Linked DNA regions of Homo sapiens. The protein of the gene in region 1 interacts with the protein of each later gene in a biochemical or structural test. Each region holds a gene or a part of one and is shown in the gene's direction. Other genes may lie near its edges.

The links. The genes of interacting proteins can lie anywhere in the genome.
Region 2: the proteins of DLG5 (region 1) and PRLHR interact in a test that uses a peptide from one of them, tested with the Homo sapiens proteins (one large-scale study listed by IntAct).

Annotation. Positions count from the first base shown.
Region 1 is NC_000010.11:77,794,205-77,797,877, reverse strand, and holds part of DLG5 (disks large homolog 5), read left to right. Parts: intron 1-1,283; coding exon 1,284-1,427; intron 1,428-1,689; coding exon 1,690-1,817; intron 1,818-2,919; coding exon 2,920-3,029; intron 3,030-3,673. UniProt on the Homo sapiens protein: Acts as a regulator of the Hippo signaling pathway.
Region 2 is NC_000010.11:118,589,443-118,592,250, reverse strand, and holds the end of PRLHR (prolactin-releasing peptide receptor), read left to right. Parts: 3' UTR 1-2,254; downstream 2,255-2,808. UniProt on the Homo sapiens protein: Receptor for prolactin-releasing peptide (PrRP). Implicated in lactation, regulation of food intake and pain-signal processing.

The DNA of each region.
Region 1 (3,673 bases):
AGGGACAGGGCAAGAGGAGAGGAGAGACTTTACTTACTCCCTGAGTTTGCCCACAGGTTGCTCTTCATGGAGCCTGCTGCTGCAGCTGGCACTGTGCTTGTGTTCTCCTGAGCCTTCTGCCTCCTGGTCCCTGTGCCTGCTCTGCAGTCACTCCTTGTTCTGCATATGCGTACAGATCCCTCCAGGCCAAGCCTCTCATGGACCCTTCCTCCCAAGCCTGCAGTCATCTTGTGCTCTGCCCTCCCCATCATCTCCATACTCATCCTCTTGCCCTGCTCTTTCTGGAGACTCTCATCCCACTTCCCTCCTGGGCCTGCCCAAGTGGTCTTTTCACCCTGTCATCCAGCCACAGTGTCTACTGAAGCCCGCCGCTCCTGGAATTGCCAGGCAGCTCTTGCGTGCTCTCTTGCTGTTCATGTGTTGCTCTGTTGTGACTCTAGTTAAAGTGTGTGCTTTTTAATGGCAGGAACTCTGTGTTCTATTCTTTATTATGTTTCTGAGATTCCAGCACAGTGACTTATACCAGGGAGACGCCAGGAAGATCTTGCTGGGTTTTAGACTGTGTCTCCCTGCAAGGACTTTATTCATTTGGTGCAAGGGGAGGTTTACTGCATGTATCAACTAGGATATTGGTTTGACTGCTTTAACTGAAACCAAATAACAGTGGCTTAAGCATAATGGGCAGTTTATTTCTCTGTCATGTACAAGTCTGAGCTGTGGTTGATGTGGGAGAGGCATTGCGTTCTGAGGATCATCCAGGACCCAGGTCCCTTCCATCTTGTGCCTCTGCCATTTCTTAAGGGTTATCCTCAACTGCATGGCCAGAGCTGGCTCACAGCACTCACCTGTTCTAGCCGTGCAGATTGGGGAGGCCTCACCTGTCACTGGGCAGGTCTGGGTTACACTGACCACACCTTCCTGGGGAGTGGGAGCTTTACCTGCCAAACCCCAGAGGCTGCCTTGCCAGAGAGCAGAGGAGAATGGAGATGGGGCAGGGGAAGCAGGCGTCGACCCACGAGGAAAAATCAGAGCAGAAGGAAGCTCTGGGATGAGTGGTTGAGACCAGCTGCCTCTGGTGTTCACAGAGGGCATGGGGGGTGCTCATGCTGGACTCCAGGGGTGACGATGCCCGGTTGTGCCTGGGACACGAGATTTTCAGTGCTGAAGCTGGGGGAGTCCCAGGCAAACCAGAGTGGGCGAGGTCAGGGAGCGGGGTTCCCCAGCCCCACTCAGGTCCTCCACTCCAAGCTGGGTCCGTGACGCTGCTGCTCTCTCTCCCTCAGATTCGGTGAGCCTGGCCTATCAGCGGGTCCAGAAGGTGGACTGCACCGCTCTGAGGCCTGTCCTGATTCTGGGGCCTTTGCTGGACGTGGTGAAGGAGATGCTGGTGAATGAGGCTCCTGGCAAGTTCTGCAGATGTCCCCTTGGTAAGGGGCACGGGGCACCCTCTGTGCCTACTGGGCTCTTTGTCTCTATGTCCCTGTCCACCTGCCTGCCCAGCTGTGCACAGTGGGTGGCAGTACCGGGGGGCAGATTTCACAGTGTTCCAGAAGCCTGCTGACATGGGTCAGATTCATGCATGGCAGGACTGGGTTACTGACAGCTGCTGAGCAGTGTTCTTCCCCTGCTCCCTCTGCTGGGGCTCAGCAGGGCCTGGGGCTCCCTGATTCCTGTGTCTGTGCATTGCAGAGGTGATGAAGGCCTCCCAGCAGGCCATTGAGCGGGGTGTCAAAGATTGCCTGTTTGTCGACTATAAGCGGAGAAGCGGCCATTTCGATGTGACCACTGTGGCGTCAATAAAGGAGATCACAGAAAAGGTACCCAGGGCTTCAGTCTGAGGATTAGGCATCCAGTATTAGACCTCCTGTGCACAGGTCTAGGCCCCTGGTCCGTGATCCTCTGCCCCAGCGGCTCAGACCTTCAGTGAGCCCACCGTGTTGTGTTAGTCTGAGTTCACCTGTGCCTGGGCTTGCCCTCATGGCTGCTGTGTGTTTCTGCAAGCACATCCCTTGGTGGGGATGGAGGAGTTCCCCTGTGTATGTGCCGCCCCATCTTCCTCTCTGGCAGGTGCGGGGGGTCTCATCTCTGATGAGAGTATTGAGCTCTGCGGAAAGGCCTCTCGCAGGGCATTCCGGAACGGGGTCCCCAAATGCATGTGCCGAACAATTTCACATGCACCTTCTGGGGACAGGAACGTGCCTTCCCTCAGGGTCCCTGCCCCTAAAAGGGCTATGACTCTCGGTGCCTTCGAACATCCTAGGCAGCACGAGGGCGGGGACGTCTGTGGGGAGTGCTGGTGGGGCAAACACTCGGAGTCCAAGGACACAGCCGCTCCTTGGGCTCCATTTCTCCAGGCTGCTCAGCTCGCTCGCTGGGCTTTGCTTCCCTTCTCTGTTAGATGAAGGTGTTGGCTTCTCACTGCTGAAAGTGGGCAAACTCTACTTGGGGGAATGCCCCAGTGGAGCATCTGGGGGTCGGGAGTGCACGGGCCTGCACTCCACCTGGATGCCTGGGACGACAGACATGACAGACATATTTCAGTCTCAGCCACACAAAGGCTCACCAGACTCTGGCTCTTCATTCGCTCAGTCTGGCAAAAATAAGGCTTCAGAGGCCAGGGTGGGGCAGGGCTTTCAGAAGGTCCCTGTATCTGGGCAAAGGCGGGAAAGGAAGTTTGGAGTTGGGCTGGCCAGCACCCCTAGCCCCCTAAGCCCTGGCTCCCAGCCTTGGCCTTCCTCACAGCAAGTGGGGTTTGTTGGGAGTTTCGTGGGTATGGTTTCCCCACGGTGTACTGTGTGGCTTTACTGCCTTGTTTGTGGGTAGAGCCCTGTGAGGTGAGGTGGGTCCTGCTGGTGGCAGGACAGGGGGCTGGCTGCCCCTCACTGCCCGCCAGGGCTCACTCTGCACCCCCCACCCCAGAACCGACACTGCCTCCTGGACATTGCTCCGCACGCTATTGAGCGGCTCCACCACATGCACATCTACCCCATTGTCATCTTCATCCACTACAAGAGCGCCAAGCACATCAAGTAGGTAACTGGCCCCCTGGGCTCCGCTGGGGCCTTGTCACAGGTGGGGCTGGGAGCCCAAGTAGGGAGCAGGGTGTGTTGGGGTGGGGGGTTGAGGAATGAGAGATGGGCCTATGGGTCTTGAAATAGGCAGTACGTGTAGAAAATGACCCTTCCCTGTCGGCCCTGTCCCCTACTCAGAGGTGGTGTCAGCCAAGCGCAGCCCCTTCCTCGCGCCCCTCCGCCATTTGGGTGCTGCCACTGTTTTTTGGGCATGGCCAGCTTGGTCTGCACAGCTCCCCTCTCCTGCCCCAGCCCCCTTTCCTCGCTACGTGCTGCTTAGGAGCAGGGGAGCCAGTGGCCTGGGCACAGTCCCACTCAGCCCCGAGCTGGCTCATGACTCAGGAGCCGTTGCCTTCGCTGAGCTTCGGCTCCTGTGCTGGTTGGGCCAAGGGCTCACCAAGGCCCTGCTCCATTTTGCCTTTCTGTGCTGCTGAGCTTCTGGGACCTGCGCTAGGGGCTGCTGGTGCATCTGTTCCAAGTGTGTGTGCTGGGGGGCCCTCCTTCCCCCATCTGCCCAGAGCTCCCCCGACAGCCTACAGGCTGTTGCTGTGCTTTATGTGGGGAGCACATGGGGCCTCCCTCCACAGCCTACCCCTGCCTTG
Region 2 (2,808 bases), about 41 Mb from region 1:
GGAGAGGGATTATTTGGGGAGGGATCTGATTCATCGTCGGCTCTTTGTTGGAAGGTTTGAATCACTGGTTCTCAACCCTGGCTGCTCCTAGAATCACCTGGGGAACTTTTTTTTCTTTTTGTAATTGATGTCTGGGCTCTCCTCCCAAGAGTCTAGTTGATTTGAGATGGTGCCTGGACACTAGCATTTTCCAAAGCACTTCAGGGGATTTTAATGTGCAACCAAGATTAAGCACCTTAAGAATTATCCTTTCTAGGGCTGGGCATGGTGGCTTACACCTGTAATCCCAGCATTTTGGGGGACCGAGGCAGGCAGATCACAAGGTCAGGAGTTTGAGACCAGCCTGGCCAACGTGTTGAAACCCTGTCTCTACTTAAAATACAAAAATTAGCCAGGCGTGGTGGCGCACGCCTGTAATCCCAGCTACTCGGGAGGCTGAGGCAGGAGAATTGCTTGAACCCAGGGAGGCAGAGGTTGCAGTGAGCTGAGATTGTGCCAGTGTACTCCAACCTGGGTGACAGAACAAGACTCCATCTCGGGGTGGGGGGTGGGGGCGGGAATCCTCTTTCTAATGAATCTCAGAAACATCCGAATGAAGCTTTAGTTGTACCTGCCAAAGGTGTTAATAATTTGGAGCTGAATTTGACGGTGTTACATGCCATACTTAGAGAATACTCTTTTAGTCTTCAGGCAATACCAGCTCAATCACAAAGAGGCAAATTATTGAAATCAGAATATATAGGGATTCGTTCAACAGTTTACTTACATATTTCTTATGTATCAGTCCAATCAATTCAGAAGGAATATCATCATTCAACCTTAGGTCAATTGTATTATAAAGTTACATACCATGGCCAGGTACCATGGCTCACATCTATAATTCCAAAACTTTGGGAGACCGAAGAGGGAGAATTGCTTGAGCCCAGGAGTTCAAGACCAGCCTGGGAAATATGGCAAAACTCCATCTCTACAAAAAATAGCCGGACGTGGTGGTGCACACCTGTGGTCCCAGCTACTTGGGACACAAAGGCAGGAGGATCACTTGAGCCTGGGAGGATCACTGGGCTGCAGTGAGCTATCATTACACCACTGCACTCCAGTCTCAGTGACAGAGCAAAATCTAGTCTCAAAAAAACAAAAAAAACAAAAACAACAAAAAACAACAAAAAACAAATTTACATACCATGAATTATTTTAAATCCTGGTTGTCAGGGTGTTAGAAAAAGTGCTCCTTGATTAGCTTAAGTTTATATCAACTATGAAAAACAAGCATCTCCATTAATTACTAGAAAAGCTGCCACTGGTTTCTGTCATGCCTACAACTTAAGTTTGAAACACTTACATGGACTTTATAAAGAGCTTAAAGAGGTTGGAGAATTAGATTGTGCTTATAAACATCTTTACATATTATGAAAATCAGCAACGGAACAGCAATTAATTCTTACAACATCTGAAATGTGTTGTGGACTAGTTTATAAATCAAACCGAATTTCAAAAAAATCAGAGGTGAGTCCCAGAGAGAACTGCGTAGGACTGTAGGTAGAAAATTTTATTTAATAATTCATTTTGGTTAATATCAAGCATCTAAGATGTATACACAGTCCTCTTCCTGCAAGGAGTAATACAGGCAGTCAGGCTGGGAACTGAGCCAACTTGGTACTTGGCAGCAGCCCTTCTCAAGGCTGATGGGAGGTTCTGTAATCCTCTTTGCAAGCTTTGTCACCAGGTCACACTTTTGGCAGCCAATCAATAGATTTATCTCATTAAACTGGCAGAAGAGTGTTTCAATGCATGCTCCAACAGCTACCTGGAAATAGCAATTGTGAGAGATGCTAAGGTAAGGATATTCCAGTTCCTATAACCGTCTGATTTTTTGTCCTTGTGAATTTTCAATCTGCTGTTTTACTGGGATAGCTAAGTTCCAGGTTTATTTTCTCAGGTAGGCTCACCCACGACCTCTGTCCTGTGGTTTGCATTCCTGAACATCTGTTAGTCTTTCAAATGCAAGGCACAAAACTAACCTCAAGAGTGTGGCTAGATCTGGGAGTGAACACAGGGCCTGTCCCTCACAGACGAGAGGTCAGGAGCACCTTTGTTTCCCAAGGCAGGTTCTTGATTGATTTACCTTCATGCGTTGATGTCTTTGCTATGTGTGTAAAATGCATGTGTTGCTGAATCACATGTGAAGCTCTACATGCTGGGGTTTATACTGTGTTTGGCATGTTGTGGGAGCTCAATAAATACTAAATCAGTTGCACAGTCTTCAGCCACAGGATTAATAAACCAAGCCAGTTATACATATGGGGTAACTACACAACCTCAGGATAGCCAGAGTCAAAGCAAGGATAAATCATGTCAAGGAAAACATGCTATTCAACCTAGATTTGTCAACTCCACCTTATTCCAGAGATGAACTGTTCATTTTGGGTCTTCTGTGACCCCCTGCCCCCAACCTCAGTAATGCCAGCATTTAAATATATGGCACCAAGCTCTCTACTCCCCAAGACTGCATATGCCTAAATCCACGGGTCCATCAAAATGAGAGTAGAGAACTTCATGCCTAATTTCTATACCATCATATATTGGAGAGTTATTTAAATGTTAGCATTTTATCACCCATTTCTCACACATAATTTGGGAAGGTCTAACAACATCCCACATATGGGTCTATAAGCAAAATCACGAGGTTTCTAAAATGTTCATGATGGAGTCATAAAAAAGATTTTTCAGTACACCTAAAATACCACTCAAAAATGGACATATGTATACCTTTTCAGCGACCCATTTATCCTACAAAGTAAAATAGTA